2 separate regions of the Homo sapiens genome follow, and region 2 is linked to region 1. Evidence: fine-mapped expression QTL. A gene starts in region 1. The other region holds a variant in brackets. All regions are shown on one strand. Distances are between the middles of the regions. Region 1 holds the start of VIPR1 (vasoactive intestinal peptide receptor 1). Region 2 has its middle 54 kb from the start of LYZL4.

Region 1 (8,330 bases):
CCTGTAATCTCAGCTCCTAGGGAGGCTGAGCCAGAAGAATCGCTTAAACCTGGAAGCTGGAGGTTGCAGTGAGCCAAGATCACACCACCACACTCCAGCCTGGGTGACAGAGCAAGACTCCATCTCAAAAAGAAAAAAAAGAAAAAAAGGAAATACTTCTAAGTTATGTGAGAGAGTACATACTGACATTTTCAATGGGTACAATAAAAATCATTTTGTGTTAAGAAGTCAGAGAGGGGAAGGCAGAATCTGGGGGTTGAACAGAAGGATTTAAGAAAGGGACTAGGCTTTACATAGTCCCCAGGCCCCATTCCCTGCTCCATGGCCAAAGGAGCCACAGTGAAGGGCCCAGCAATGGCAGAGTTGTGGCACGTGGCAGGTTAGAGCCCCTACCCTGGTCTCATGGCCCATGTTGGATTTCCACTGAGGCTGCCCACGTTGTGAAGGCCCATCTGCTCTGAGAGGCCCCATTGCCTACCTAGGCCTGGAGCCTTACCCCCAAAATGTTTTGGCCACCTAATGAGGAAACGTCCCCCATTCCCCAGGACTCCTGCTGCCCTGGGAACCTGTGGGAAGATGGGGGCCAGAAATAGCTGTATAAGTTTGCACAGGGCTCCCAAGCTGGGGACGTAGGAGAAGGGATGACAGTCACACAGTTCACATAGCCACCTTCACAACCTTTACCTCCTTCAAAGCTCACAGAAGTCCTGCTTGAAAGACAAACCCCCTTTCACAGAGACCCTGGTGCTCCAGGGGTAGATTATGTCCCACTCAGGAGGCAGAGTTGGCTCCAGCCTAACCCTCTCCTCCCACTTCTCCTGCACACTGGGCGGAGGCCTCTCACCTTCCCTTTTGTGGTGAGGAACCCGAGGCCCTTCCACAAAAGTTAAAGATGTTCCCAAGGTCAAGCCATTGCCATGGAGTGGAGTGAGGACCAGCTCTCCTGTTTCCAGCCTGGGCTCCCCAAGGATGTCCCACAAACCTCAGAGAAGGCATAGTCTTAGTGCACCAGGACAGGAGGGTAGAAACTTCCAAAAGGGCTCGCTTTTCCAGCATGGTACCCTGGGAGCCCTGGCCAGGCCTAACTGAGGTGGTAACCTCACTTGAGGAGGAGGCCTGACCCAGATGCAGCCATGTTTCCCAAAGCTCACAGGGTGGCCTGCTGGGGGCCAAGAGGGCCTGGGCAGCTGTGGTCCGCCTCTGGAGAGGCTAGAGGCAGGTGGCAGGGGCAGCAGGATGCCGGTGGCAAGGCAAGGCCTTCAGGAGCTTGTGGCCACTGATCAACCTCAGAGTTGGGGAGAAGTCGAGCCTCTCCCAGTCCCTGGGACTCCTCCTTCTGGGGGCAGGCCCATTGGTCCTGTCAACAGAGGCTGTTTTATGGTTTAGGGTGAAAGATTGGCCCATCTGGTCAAACTCTTTAGGGCACAGTCCTGCTTCTTCCAGGAGCCTCCCCTGACTGTTCCTCTCAGCAACCCCTGCCCCAGTTCTAGGAGGCTGTACCCCACATCCACCTGGACTCTTTCTCCTAAGTCACTGGGTCTGGTCTCCCACACCAGATAGAGAATTTCCCACGAGGAGGCCTGTGACCCTCCTCCCCCAGCCTCGTACTGGGCATTGCCCTGAGCAGCTCTGCTTCTGGATGAGGAGTCCCTGTGCCTGCTGTCCGGGGGGCAGGGGCAGTGGAAGGCTTGACAGGTGGCCTTGGGGCAGACTTCCTCCTCTGAGACACTGGAGGTTTTCTTTCCTTTTTTTTTTTTTTTTTTTTTTTTGCCTCCCTTTTCAGAGATTTCTCCTTCCCAGGCTGAAGTCAGGGCACCATAAACAGGAGTGATAAGGCCTTGGGCCTTCAACTTGAACTTTGCAGCTGCCATTTTATGACTCTGATAACTCCTGTCACCCCGCCCCCCCACCCCGCCGTCACACCGAGTCCGGCTAGAGCAGGTTTGCCCCATTCCATGAGGGAGCGATTGGTAGCTGGTGGGGAGGAGGGAGAATCAGGGAGGGAAATAGGGACCCCTCACTCCAGCCTGCCCTCACCCAGTCCTGGTTGAGTCCCTTCTCCTCTCTCTGTGGACCCAGCCCCTGCACTGGGCTGTAAGAAACATGGGGATGTAAGAGACCCCAGCCCCTGACCTTATAGGATGGCCAGAATAGCCCAGCCTGGGAGGTGGGTAGGGCTGAAGGGTGGGGTTAGAGGGGGAAGGGTTGAGTTGGCTGGAGCAATCAGGGAAGGCTGTCTGGAGGAGGAGATAGAGTTGGGCACTAAACGAATAAGATGTGGAAAGACAGGGGGAGGGTAGGCATTGGAGGGAGGAGACAGATTTGGGCTGTCTCAGGAAGTGTGAAGTAGAAGTGGCCTGGTGTGAAAGGAGACCTCTCTGAATCCACTCTGCCCCTGGGCTCAGAAGCTTCTCGGGATGGAGGAATGGGGTGACAACAGTGGTCCCAAGATCCCCGGTTCATCCAAGAAGAGTTTGAGTGGCTTGAACCTGGGGTTGGGAGGGCCAGATGGTGGTTGGAGAGGCCTGAAGGCTTCATGCAAGTTGTGCCAGAGCTGTGGCCTCTGGGACAGAGCTTGGTAAGATTTTGAGTGCTCAGGAGGTGGGTCTCATGGCTGTCATGGGTGGAGGTGAGGCTCCTGCCAATTGTCAGAGGTCCGCTCCTAGGACAGGCAATGAGCTTCCCATTCCCAGGGTGCTCAAGACATCCGCTAGATGGAAACACAGAGATACCTGCTCTGGTGGAGGTGATGGTAAGGGAAGTGACCATGGGAGAGAATGAACTAGATAATCAAGATTCCTCACCCTCCCCCAGCCAACTTGGAGTGGGCATTTAAGGCCCTGCCTAAGCAGCAACTCTAGATTACTCAAAGTCTGGGGTAGGGAGAAAATCAACCTTTGTCTAGGTCTAACTGGTGGGAGACAGATGTGGCTCTTGTGTCTCTGGACCTCGCTTTGCCCATCTGTAAAATGGGCTTCAGTAGACTCAATGAGTGCTGAGGTCTCCCCTGTTCTAGAGTGAGATGATCCATGCATCTCCTGCCTCAATCAGCATCTGCCTCCCAGCCCAGGTAAGCCATCCACAGGAACACATATCACACCCACACATGGGGCACACGAGTACACATGTATCAAGGGCATACACATACCCACGTTGAGAGGAAGCAGAAGTGGGAGGAAGAGGGAGGCCACTGCTTGTTGGCATTGGCTCCCTGCTCAGCTCTCTCCATGTACAGGCCTGGCCCCTCCTGTTAACCACCACCCTTAGCCCCTCACTGCCCACCAGCTTCCACCTTGGGGTCTGGTACCTTTTTGCTTTGCTCAGTGGGAGGGCACACGGAGGGATGTGCCTGTCACTCACCTGATCCCAAGAACCCCTTCTCAAGTCCTGGGGCCCCCAGCACTGGTTCTGATGCTGACAGCCCACAGGCACCTCCAGACGGTCACAGCACACAAGAACGGCCCCTCACATCCTCCCTCTCACCTACGGTGTACCAAACCTTCCATCTCAATCGGCCGCAGTACCTGACTCTGCACCCACTGGCCGCCCCACCCCGCTGCGCACCCACAACCACGACAAGGAAGGCAAGTCTGGGGCCCACTCTTCCCCGCTGCCCCTCCACTGATGCTGTGCCTGCTCCGGGCTGCGCTGGGAGGGACTGGGCACGACCAATATCCCAGCCCTCGCGTCTAGGTTCGGTCTGGAGCGGTGGGAGGAGGCGAGTCGAGATGCTTGATGTCCCCTATTCCTCTTACACAGACACGCGCACAGACGGCCCGGCTCCCGCCATCCCCCACCTCCCCCGCCCTCCGCAACCCCCAGGCTGCCGGGACTCTGGGCGGCCGGGCGAACACTCACCGCCGGCCCAAGGGCCCAGGCGAGGGCGCCTGCCAGCACGCATAGCCAGCGGGCGGGCAGCGGACTTGGCGGGCGCATGGTCTGCCCTGAGCCCGCGGCGGGCGGCCCCGCGCGGGCAAAGAGCTGGCGGGCGGCGCACCAGGCGGGCGATGGCCGGGAGCCTGGCAGAGTGGCGCTGGCGCTGTGGCCCCAGAGCTAAGAGGCGCAGCTCAGGGCTGGGGGCGGGCCCCGGGGGCTCGTCTGACGGGCGGCGGATCTAGCCAATGGATGGGTGGAGGCGGGGCCGCCGCGCAGGTATGGGGCGGGGCTGGGGAGCCCCTGCCAGTGAGGAAGCTCTGCTCTCTCTTTGCCAATCCCACACCTTGGTCTTCCGTCGTGAGACATTTATAGGCCTTCGCCCCTCCGGGCTCATCACCCGGGAATCTCGAGACCCGAACACATTCCATCCTTCCATGCTTAGCTCACGACCTTCGCAAGCTCCCACCTCTGTATCCACCCTCAGCCCCATCCCAGGGCGCTCCTCATGTCTACCCTCGGAGCCACCTCCTCCAGGAGGCCTCCCCGCCAGCCTCCCCATTTCCCACCTGTGCGTCTCCGAGGGTTCGTGCGCGCAAATCCGATTACGAGACAGGAAGTGCCACTTATCTTCCCAGGCTGCGAGCTGGGGCCCAGCAAGTGTCCAGGCGCTGACAGAGATCGGGTTGTTTGATCAATTTTCAACAACCCCAATTCATCCTTCGCGCCGAAGAAGCCAGGCGAGAGGAAGCGAGGGCTCGAAAGAGGCCCGACTCTGGGTTCCTTGGTGTTCCCTGCTCCCGGGTGACCTGGTGGGGCGCGCTCAGCACCTGTTGGGTGCCCTGGCCCTTCAAGCCTCGGGAGACCTGCTCCAGGGAGGATGAGGTGTCCGCACCCTCGCGGGTCTCGTCCAGGGCACCTCCCCAGGGAGGCTGGGCTGAAGTGCCAGCGCCCTCGCGTGGGGAGCGAGGTCTGCTCCCAGCCCGCAGGCCGACTCCGCAGCTGACCTAAAACGATCCACAGACGTCGTCCTCCTCCTGCATTCCCTATTTTACAGCTGGGGATACTGGGGTCCAGAGAGGGGCCAGGACCCTGGCCGCCTGCCTTTGGTGCTGAGCTTCCAAGGGGCGGCTGCTCGGCCGCTGGGTGACACCGGGTCAGCCCCTTTTCTCGTTTATTCGTCCCTGGCATGGGGAGCGGGGTCACCAGCTCTGCGCCCTGGGAGCGCGTCTTCTTGTGGACCAAGCGCAGGTGGCTGCTAGCCCTCTTTCTACGGGCTCGAGCCTGCACAATCGAGGCTGGAGATGTGGTCGCGGCGGCAGGATAGAGTGGCTGGCGGAGCCGTGTGACAGAAGGAGAGGCGGAGTTCAGTGGAGAGGCGGAGAGGGCAGCGGGTCCCAGAGCCCTGAGCAGAATGTGCGGCTACCTGAAGGAGGTCCCGCGCTAGGCTTTGGCTGAACAGCAGGCGCGCAGGAGCTCCCTGAGGACCCACCAGGGCTTCCCTCCCTACAGAGAGGGAACGTTGGGATGCTGCCATGGGGTGGGCTTGAGGGGAGTGGGGGAAAGCCGGGAAGGGATGAGTGCCCTGGCCCTTTCTTCAGGGCGTACTTACACTTTCTTTCCACTCTCTCTTCTTTCTCTTCTTTCTTCCTCCCTTCCAGCATTCCATCCCCTGCACTTGCTCTTTTTCCCTTTCCTCCCTCTCCTCCTTCCCTTCATTAAAGGGAACCTCGCCACCATGGAGCCCCTCCCTCCTTTCTTCCATGCACATTTATTAATCTCTTTCTGTGTGCCAGGCCCTGTGCTGTGCACTGGGGGCACAGAGGTGGATGGGCAGCATCCCCTTGCCATGAGGGGAACTTGGGGAGCTACTGTACTCCCTGCAATTTCTACCTCCTTCCCGATATAATCAGTGAGGCTGGACACAGGCCTTTCCTTAGATTTGGGAGCTGTGGAGATGCCTCTGTCCTAGCCTTTCTTGGGTTTGTACTCGATCTCCCAATGGCGGGAGTGTTTGAATCATCCTCAGCCATCTCCTCAGCTATCCACACCCCTGACGGCTGCTGTTAGCTCAGAAATCAGGGGTCTTTGTCTCTCCTTATGACCCTGTGTACCCCGTCTCGGGTCTCAGTTCCCTGGCAGGACAGTGGAATTGTGTCTTTTTCCTGGGAAGTTACTTGTGCTGGCATGGTGTCCTAGGAGCCCTAGATGTGAAGAGCAAACCTGTGGGTTTGGGGTGTCATGAATCCTCAGCCCTCACTCCTCAACACATACATACACACACAGCACCTAGCCAGCTGCAGGATGCTGAAATCCTATCATTAATGTGTCATGCCCCCAGGGTTGTTGAAGTTCTCCTGCTCTCCTGGAGGACAAGGTTCTTGGACACTTGAGGGTATATGATGGGTGTGAGGATTGGAGAGGCAGACCTCACTTTGCCATGTGACCCACCAGTGAATGGCTGGTGGGCAGGGTGGGGAGGGAGGGAGAGGGACTGGCTACCAGTGGGGATGGGTTGCCTTCCCCTGGCTCTGGAGGGGGGCCCACACTACCCTTCCTCTCCTCTGTTGGAGGGCTGGATGGCCAGGTTGGAGGCAGTGAGTGGCTGGGAAGGCATCTGATGCCTTTGCAGGCCTTGCTCCCCGGAAGGGAGTAGGTGAATCAGAAATAATTGTTTCCTTGCAGATTCTTCGGAATAAACATCACTTCTTTGTTCTTTCAGAATTGTTCTCCTGGGGGATCCACCCTTCCTTACCTATCAAAGGGCACAAAACATATTCAGAAATGAAAAGAGCAGAAAGAAAATAGCAAAACCAAACAAAAACCTAAAAAATTCAACCAACATTAAATGTGACTGTGTTTCAACTAATTGCTCCCGAATGTCCTGTCCTGTGTTCTGAAGCACTGGGGGGAAGGGGGTCAACCGTGGGCCCACTCTTGGGGAGTCCTGTAGAATCTGCTGAGGAAGCCATCCTTTTGTGCACCCAGTTGATCTGGGAAGGCTTCTTGGAGGAAGAGGGATGTCAGAAGCAGAGGGGGGGCCGACGGACTACCTGAGGGAGTGGGAAGCCTGTGGTCCCAATCTCCCCACCCTGTCCAAAGCCTAAGCCCCTCTGGAGTCTGCCTTGCCTTCCCAGTCCAGGCTTGAGGAGGAGAGCCATAGTCGCCTCCTACTCTCTGTTCCCCCATGTCCTTCTTGCATGGATTCCTCCCTGGGGGGGTCTGTTCTGAAGTCTCCCCTCTGGGATCCCTAAAACCTGTCCCTAGTCTCTAGCACCATCTCATATCCCTTCTGGATGTCAGAATCACATGGGTGCCAAGGACACGGGAGGTGGCGGGAAAGAGAGAGAAGTGGAGTCACTTGCCATCCCCCGTGACAACAGGCATGGCACAAAGAGAATCTGCAGTTACTCATTCTGAGCCTGCCTGGCTTCCTGCCTGTCTCATCCATGCGCTGTGTGCCGCCCTCGCCTCCTCTCAGAATCGTGCACTCACTGCCTTCAAGGCTTCCAGCTCAGGGGCTCCATGGTGGTGAGGTTCTGTGGTGGAGTGGGAAGGGGGCTGGGGGGGCCACAGAGTGGCCTTGACCTGTACGCTGGAGGCCAGGCTAGGAGATGGTGAGGAAACCACCTGGCTGGGGGAGTCACTGCTCTAGGATTCCCCTGCCAGAGCCACCCACGTTGCTGTCTGGATGCAGGCAACATTTGCTTTCTCCGGGCTTCTGAGTTGAAGGGACCTACACTTTTGGTCTTTATCCATAGAGCGGGGCTGGTAGCTCTGGCAACATGGAGTGATCACCACCTCCCCAGGGTGCACCTTCTTTTGGGGCCAGTTCTTCCTGTGAGAAGATGCACCTTAACTCCAGGCTGTAATTTGGTGGAGGGCAGGAGAGGCCTGGGCAGGCATTTAAAGAAGAAATATTCCCTTCCTCCCTTCCATAACAGCATGCAGTGAATATCATTCATTCATCCTTCACGTCTCAACACCCGCACTCATCTGGGGATTGGGGACGTGACTGTGTCTTAGACATGGGCTGTCCTCTGCAGGGAAGCCTAGCACTGCTTGGGTGTGGGATTGTGGGGGATCTTCTGTTGGTGCTACACCTGCATCTAGGAAGAAAACCAAGTTCACGGGAGAGCAGGTGATGGAGAAAGAATCATCCTGACATAACAGATTTGGAAATGAAGCTCAAGGACAAGTTCTGAAATGGCTATTCCTGGTCCTGGAGGCTGGGGCTTAGAGCTCTGTTGCGGGGAAGGGTGGTGCTAACTATAGGTGTGTCAGTTCAGGTCCTCTAGTGAGCAAATGCTAAGGTGGAGTTAGGAGTGTGAATGTTTATTGGATGGCAGGGGGACCTGTGAGAGACAAAAGAGGAGAAAGTAGGATTGGGCAGAGAGAAACTCAGACTGCATTGCAGATCTGAAAAAGTCTTTGCCAATTTGATAACGAGTTCCAGG
Region 2 (8,330 bases), 150 kb after region 1:
TGGAAATGAGACTTCTCTGAATATGGCTTTTCACATAATTTTGACTTTGCATTCAAATTTTACATATTCACAAAATAAATTAAATCAAAAAGAAAGAAAAGACAAACTTGAAAATTGAAAACATATCAGGCTTGGCTAAAGGAACCTAATTGCGTACCAAATTAGTAACACAGATATGACGAGAAAAGAAAAAAATTCAGACATCTCTGATACAGTTCTCTGGTTCTAGTCCTCTGTGAAAAATATTCCAAGAGTAAAAAAAAAACTGCATATAAATATTTAAGGTTACTTTGTAATTGTATTAGTACTGGTAATAGTGGTTTTTAACTTTGGAAAATTTTTAAGTATATTGTAAGATTAAAGCAAAGAAGTAAATTCCTGAAACTATTCTATCTATGTATATTAGAGAATAAAGAAAATAAGTAAATATATTCTAATAGTATTAAGAATCAAAAGATTTTTAGAGTAAGAAAAAAGCGATTTATATACAAAATACAATAGATTTAATGAAAACCTGAAATGTTACATTTGAATTGGAGTAAATATAAACTCATAATTGTATATATTATATATAATACGTATATTTTTATTTTTTCTCTGTCAACTGAAAGGCCCTAGAAGCAATAACACCTCAGTATACCAAGTCCCCAAATCTTAGCTTCTAATAACAGTACTGACCGGGTGCCACTGGTGGCTCACGGCTATAATCCCAGCAATTTGGGAAGCCAAGGTGGGCAGATCACTTGAAGCCAGGAGTTTGAGACCAGCCTCGCCAACATGGCAAAACCCCATCTCTACTAAAAATACAAAAATTAGCTGAGCGTGGTGGTGGGCACCTGTAATCCCAGTTACTCAGGGAGCTGAGGCAGGAGAATTGCTTGAACCCAGGAGGTGGAGGTTGCAGTGAGCCGAGATCGTGCCATGCACTCCAGCCTGGGCAACAGAGCGAGACTCCATCTCAAAAAATAAAAATAAAACAGTATCCTTCCCCACTCAAATGAATGATGGCTCTTTTGGGAAATAGCTGATTCCAGGGAAATACAAGAGGAATCTCATAAGTCTGGTTGGTCCAGAAATGCTTAAAGATGAATGGGACAAAGTTTGTCTGAGACTGAGGGAATTTTCTGCACACGGGACTTCCAGTTTTAAAACTGGAACAAGTAGGTCACTCTATCAAATCCCCTGTGGATGGACATTTGGATTATTTCTAATTTTTGCTATTATAACTAATGTCACTATAAAAAACCTCCTGCACATGTTGCTTTGTATCCGTGGACGTGTATCTTAAAGGTGAATTTCTGGAAGTGGGATTGCTTAGGTTGGCTAAAGAGTAAATGAGTCTGTAGCTTTGTTAGATGTCGACAAGTTCTCCTCTGCAGGAAGTGTACTCTCTTGCCTGCCATTATTTGCCCCAGTGCAGGGACCTGATCCAGCAGGAACAGAATATCTCATGCCACACTTAGGAAGAAGGATGCAAATACCCCTGAGATTTACTTGTAGAGAGTATAAATGACTAATATCAGCCTCTTTCCTGAGTAATGATTTTGATGGTGGGAAAGGGGGCAGGGAGGAAAAGATGCATTGATATCCTTGTGGGAGGCCCTAAATCCAGACTTCTCCTGCTTACAGGTTTTCCCTGGACTAGACCTGTGCTTTCTGCCTGAATTTCTTACCCTCTGATAACTTAGGCAAATGAGATCGCAGATTCCAACCCTTTAACTCTATAACCCATTCTCTTTGGCATCCAGACCCCCTCTACTAATTAATACAAGGCATTCTCATTTCCCCAGGTCTTCCTTTTTGGGCCCTTTGCTTATTGGTGCTATTGGATTGGTACCTAGGCAGCACAAGAGGGCCTCCCTTCTCCATCCCAGCCTTCCCACCTGTACTGGGACATGGTGTTTCTTCTCTTAGGACTGTCAATAGATATTCAAGAGAGGACCCTGTGTCCATTTACAAAATAGCAAAATGCTTCCCTAGTCCTGCTGTTCCCAATTTTTTGTTTTCCTCCCAGCAAATATAACATTTACATATTGATAGTGAAGGAAATAACGTATACAGTGGTCCAAGACAAAGTGCCTTGAATCGGTTTAGGTTAGCAAACTACAGAAAAAAACAGGATACACTAGGCCCCTGCTTGGATAGTCAATGCCTGCTTGTCGCGCACCTCCCTGCACCACCCCCGACCCCGTTAGTTGCCCCCACCCAAACCAAAAAAGTTTAGTCTAAGATGAAAGTTTACTAGCCTGCAAGATAGCTCACTTTGTCTATTCTCATCAGCCTGCCCAGCTACTTAAGTCATAAGTCAAATACTTAAAGAGCCCCTGAGCTGACTAGGAATGCAACGCATTGTGGGCTGCAACAAAATGCAGCAAGACAACCCCAAAGAAAACACCTAAGCCCCAGCCCAGCAACTGATAGGTGACGTGTGGGAAGATTGTGACCCCATAGTAGTCAGCCTATGAGGAACTGGGGGAGGAACCTGTGCACTAGGGGGTAAATTGTTTGTTGTGACTGTGCTGGGTGTGCCTGCCCATCAGACACCTGATCTTGCAAGATGGTCCTTAAAAGTCTCACTTTCGCTGTTCTCCGGGTCTCTGAGTCCATTCTTTAAATTTGGACAAGTGAGTTTGTTTCTCACAATAGGCATTCCCAAATTTTATGAAACCTCAAATTATGCAAGTAAATGAAGCAATAGGCATGACAGCCTTTTTTGGCCCAATCCTCACAAAAGCATCTCATATACTTGTGTGAGATTCAAGGCCCAGCTATGGCCCTGTTAGGACAGGCTCTGTTTGTATGACACCCAGGTTCCTGGACATAACTTCCTTCCTCTCCCCATCAAGAAAGCATGATATTATCGAGAGTGAGCTAGACTTATCAGTATTTACAGGAAGCAATCTCCAAGCATAATGTTGAGTGAAAGACAAGTTGCAAAAGGAAATAGAGTGTGCTAATATCTCTTGAAGACTCACAAAACAATGCATTGTTAATGAAAGACTACTTATGAACAGAACTAACATTCAGGGGTCAATGCTGGGTAAGCTGAGTGGTATATGGTTGGTTATCACTCTGGTTGGTGCCATGCTCCATACATGCTCTTAAATATCTTCATATTTTGTCCCCCCAACCATAGTAGCAAACTATGAAAACAAGGATGAAAAAAATATACAGCATTAGAATGGTGAGTACTTCAAAAATGTCAGGAGGAGAGAAATGAGGCACAGGGAGAGAATTTAGCTTTACTTGCAACTGATTTTTGTTTCCATTCTCTTTTCTTTTTTTTAGTATTTGAAGAAATACAGGCATCATGGAGATATTGCAGGTGTCAGAACAAAATGAATTGTACAAATTTTTTGGTTTCCCAATGCATGTAAATGTTACATTTACACTATATTGTAATTTATTAAGTATACAATGACAGTATGTCTAAAAAATGTACATGGCTTAATTTAAAAATGCTTTATTGCTGAGAAAATGCTAATGATCATCTGACCCTTCAGCAAGTCATCTTTTTGCTAATGGAGGGTGTTGCCCTGATGTTGATGGCTGCTGACTGATCAGTTGGTGGTTGCCAAAAGTTGGGGTGGCTGTAGCAATTTCTTAATATAAGACAACAATGAAGTTTGCCTCATTGATTGACTCTTTCACGAAAGATTTCTCTGTAGCATACAATGTTGTTTGATAGCCCTCTAACCATAGCAGAACTTCTTTCAAAATTGGAGTCAATCCTCTCAAACCCTGCTGCTGATTTATCAACTAAGAATATGTAATATTCTAAATCCTTCGTTGTCATTTCAACAGTGTACACAGCATCTTCACCAGGAGTAGATTCCATCTCAAGAAACCACTTTCTTTGCTCATTCACAAGAAGCAACTCCTCATCCACTCAAGTTTGATCATGAGAATGCAGCAATTCAGTCTCATCTTCAGGCTCCACTTCTAAATCTAGTTCTCTTGCTATTTCCGCCACACCTGCAGTGACTTCCTCCACTGAATTCTTGAACTTCTATAAGTCATCCTTGACAGCTAAAATCAACTTCTTCCAAACTCCTGCTAATGTTGATATTTTGACCTCCTCCCTTAAATCGTGAATTTTTTTTTTTTTTTTTTGAGACGGAGTTTCAATCTTGTCACCCAGGCTGGAGTGCAATGGCATGATCTCGGCTCACCGCAACCTCTGCTTCCCGGGTTCAAGCAATTCTCCTGCTTCAGCCTCCTGAGTAGCTGGGATTACAGGCATGCACCGCCATGAACAGCTAATTTTGTATTTTTAGTAGAGATGGGGTTTCTCCATGTTAGTCAGTCTGATCTTAAATTCCCAACCTCAGGTGATCTGCCCGCCTTGGCCTCCAAAATTGCTGGGAGTACAGGCCTGAGCCACCGTGCCTGGCCAAATTGTGAAAGTTCTTAATGACATCTAGAATGGTGAATGTTTTCCAGAAGGTTTTCAATTTATTTTACCCAAATCCATCAGAGGAATTACTATTTATGGCAGCTATATCCTTATGAAATGTATTTCTGAAATAATAGAATTTGAAAGTCAAAATTACTCATTTCACTATTTCATGAGCTTCAGAATGGATGTTGTGTTAGCAGGTATGAAAAAAACATTAATCTCCTTGTAAATCTCCATCAGAGCTCTTGAGTGTCTAGGTGTATTGTCAATGAGCAGTAATATTTTGACAGGAATTCTTTTTTTCTGAGCAGTAGTTTCAATAGTTGGTTTAAAATATTCAGTAAACCATGCTGCAAACAGATGTGCTGTCAGGCTTTGTTGGTTCATTTATAGAGCACAGGCAGAGTAGATTTGGAATAATTCTGATGGCCCCTAGCATTTTCAGAATGGTCATGAGCATTGGCTTCAACTTAAAGACACCAGCTGCATTAGCTCTTAACAAGAGAGTCAACCTGTCTTTTGAAGTTTTGAAGACAGACATTGACTTCTCCTCTCCAGCTATGAATGTCCTAGATGGCATCTTCTTCCAATATAAGGCTGTTTGGTCTACACTGAAAATCTGTTCTTTAGTGTAGATGCCTTCATCAATGATCTTAGCTAGATCTTCT[G/A]GATCTCTTGCTGCAGCTTCTCCATCAGCACTTGCTGCTTCACCTTGCACTTTTATGTTATGAAGATGGCTTCTTTCCTCAAACTGTATGGACCAACCTCTGCTAACTTCAAAGTTTTCTTCTGCAGCTTCCTCACCTCTCTCAGCCTTCACAGAATCAAAGAGAGTTATGGCCTTGCTCTGGATCAGGTTTTGGCTTAAAGAAATATTGTGGCTGGTTTGATCTTCTACCCATACCACTAAAACTTTCCCCATATCAACAATAAAGCTATTTCCCTTTCTTATAATATGTGTTTACTGGAGTAACATTTATAATATTCTTCAATAATTTTTCCTTTGCTTTCACAGCTTGGTTAACCATTTGACATAAGGGGACTAGCTTTCAGCCTATTTCAGGATGAGGAGGAACATGCCTTCCTCACTAAGCTTAATCATTTCTAGCTTTTTATTTAAAGTGAGAGATGTGCAACTCTTCCTTTCATTTGAACACTTGCAAGCTATAGTAGGGTTATTAATTGGTCTCATTTCAATATTGTTGTGAATCAGGGAATAGGGAGGCCAGAGGAGAGAAAGATTGGAGAATGGCTGGTTGGTGGAGCAGTCAGAACACAGACAACATTTGTTAAGTTCACTGTCTTCTATGGGTGTGGTTCATGGTGCCCCTAAACAATTACAATAGTAACTTCAGAGATCACTGATCATAAATCATCATAACACATATAATAATAAAAAGTTTGAAATATTGTGAGAATTACCAAAATGTGACATAGAGACACAAAGTGAGCACATGCTGTTGGAAAAATGAGACCAATAGACTTTCTTGGCACAGAGTTGCTGGAAACCTTCAATTTGTGAAAAACACAGTATTTGAAAAGCAAAATAAAGCAAAGCTCAATAAAATGAGATATGCCTGTATTTCAAAATATTACTGCTTGTTAAATGTGCATGTAGATGTTTTATATGATTCTCTACACTTGTCCATATTTTAAAAATATTTCAGAATTAGAATATTTGTATGCATATATATTTTAGAGTGAGAAGAAAGTCAGAATGCAAAGGAGTGAGAATGACATTTTAGGAATGGACTTAAGACCTCTAATTTGTATAAAGGATGAAAAGGAGGAGGTGGGAGAGAAGGAGGAGGGAGAAAAGGAGGAGGAGGAGTGTGAGGAACAAGAGGAGGAAGGTAAGGAGGAAGAGGAGGAGGGTGAAGAAGAAGAAAGGAGGAGGAGGAAAAGGAGTAAATTCATTCCCAAACACCTGCACTCTAACTCCATTAGTTACAAATTCCCTTGACCATCCATAGTGGGCTGGTAACAGATGGGGCAGTTCAGCAACCACTGAAAAGAGTTAAGCTGACCTGTAAGTCCTGGATATGGAAAATGTCCAAGATGTATTCTATTAAACGAAAGAAGCAAGCACTGCATAACATTCATTGTGTGGTCGACTGTTCCCAGTGATTTCCTCGGGGAAGGGGTGGGGAGTAGGGAGGCAGTGGTGGAGGAGTTCCTACTTTTTTCTAGATAATTATTCATTTCTTAATGTTTTCTATTAAGAATAAGCTCATCTATTGCCTTTTTAATTGAATCCATTTTAAAGTGGTGAGGATAATGGGAGAAGTACAGGCAAAAGGCCTTAAAAGAAACAAGAAAGACCTCATAGAGGAGGCAAGCCACCCTGAGGCACAGGTAGAATCTGGGATGCACAAGTAGGGTGGGAGAAGGGACAGCAGACCAGAGACATGGAGCCAGAGAGTGGGGATGGCTTCTAGGAAGGGTGTGTGGACCTGGGATGTAGGCTGGGGCCAGATTACACTGGATTGCATTATCAGACTAGGAAGCTTGGTTTCCACCTATTCCTTCCCTCCCTCAAACAGACTCCTGTCTTGAGGAGCCAGGGCTGTCCAGGCAGAGCTGGGCCCACAGACTGCAATGAACTCAGCCCAAGGGCTGCTGGGAGATGGGCCAAGGTAAAGATCAACCCCAAATGCCATGTTCTGGAACATGGAGGTGGGTGGGAGGAGGAAGGTAGGCAGGGCCAGTGCATCCTTACCCAGCTATGATCAACTGCTGGGCACTTGGCTTGGAGCTGGGAATGAAAATACAATCTGCTAATTAAGCTAATTGTTTGAAAGGCATTTTTTTTTTTTGCATAGTCATCAAAAAGAGGCATAATGAGCATAAAAACAAAGGGATCTTTTATTTTTCATTCATGCCTTAATCATCATTTCAAGTACCCTAGCCTGGTCAGTATAATTATAGGCTCTTGGTACAGAACTAAAGCTAATTTCCCAAAGGACATTGAGTTCACATCTCTGTTCTGCCAGAAAGCTGGCCCTGTTCTCTCAGGAACTTCTGGAATTAGGAATGCTTCTTCTCTCTGTGCCCAGACTTGGATGCCTTTTGATCGCATGGAGATGGATATTTCAGATCACCAAGAGACAGAGACTCTAAGAAGGCTTCTTTCTCCCTACACGGAGAAATCATTTTGTGATAGAAAAACTCAGTGCTGTAGTGAGGGCCATGGGGAATAGGCAGCCAAAAATGACAACTGTCCCCCCAGTCGGTGTTGGTCTGAGGACTGCAGAGCAGGATGCAGGGTGGTCTCGCCATAAACCTGGACGCTGATGGGTGGTGATGGAGAATTAGGCAGAATGAACACTTCTGCTGTCACCAGACTCATTGATAAGACCATCCTGAGGCAGCTGAAAGTGTTCACCCATATCCCATCAGAGACCCTTGCTATTTCAGCGCATGGTGTCAGCCTGACTGCCATCAGCCATCTTTGTTGCCTGCAGGAGGGAAGGAGTGGGAAGAACCAGGGAATTACCATCTGGGCCAGTCCTTAAGCCATGACTGGCAGGTGTGAATTCCCCAGCTTTGTTACCTTTCACTGTTTCCCAGAGTTTCCTCTTAAGCTTAAGCACCAGTTCCATATTGCAGTAGCTGGTGTGACAGCACACACTTACTAGCTGCCTTCCCTTGCTCAAATATCTTTCTTCTTCACCTACCCATGTTCCTTCCACTTCCCAAATAAACTACTTGCACTCATATCCTTATCTGAGGGTCAGCTTCTGGGGGAGCTCAAACTAAGACCCATGTGTGAACCTTGCTGTGAGCAACTATGTCCATATTCCCTCACACTTTAGAACATTCATTTCCTCCTAGACCTTCTGAGTCCTTGTTCACCACCCAGCCTTCTGAACTTTGCTACAGGTTTTCCTGCTGTGTCCCGCATCCTGGGGATGTGCCCCAGGAGCCTCTA

The links. PIP is the estimated chance that this variant, and not a neighbour inherited with it, causes the effect. A credible set is the group of variants that fine-mapping cannot tell apart.
Region 2: its variant is the best candidate, but not a certain one, in a credible set for the expression of VIPR1 in whole blood (TOPMed, PIP 0.57).

What each region holds. Positions count from the first base shown.
Region 1 is chr3:42,498,342-42,506,671 of GRCh38, reverse strand. It overlaps VIPR1 (vasoactive intestinal peptide receptor 1), which reads right to left and starts at 4,029. Exons shown (of 13, transcript NM_004624.4): 1 at 3,859-4,029. The coding sequence starts at 3,936. RefSeq lists silencers at 3,771-4,270, 4,331-4,430 and an enhancer at 4,958-5,531.
Region 2 is chr3:42,352,716-42,361,045 of GRCh38, reverse strand. It overlaps a transcript of LYZL4 not described here. Among named protein-coding and RNA genes, the nearest start is that of LYZL4, 54 kb to the left of the region's middle. The variant G/A (reference allele first, on the strand shown) is at 5,068.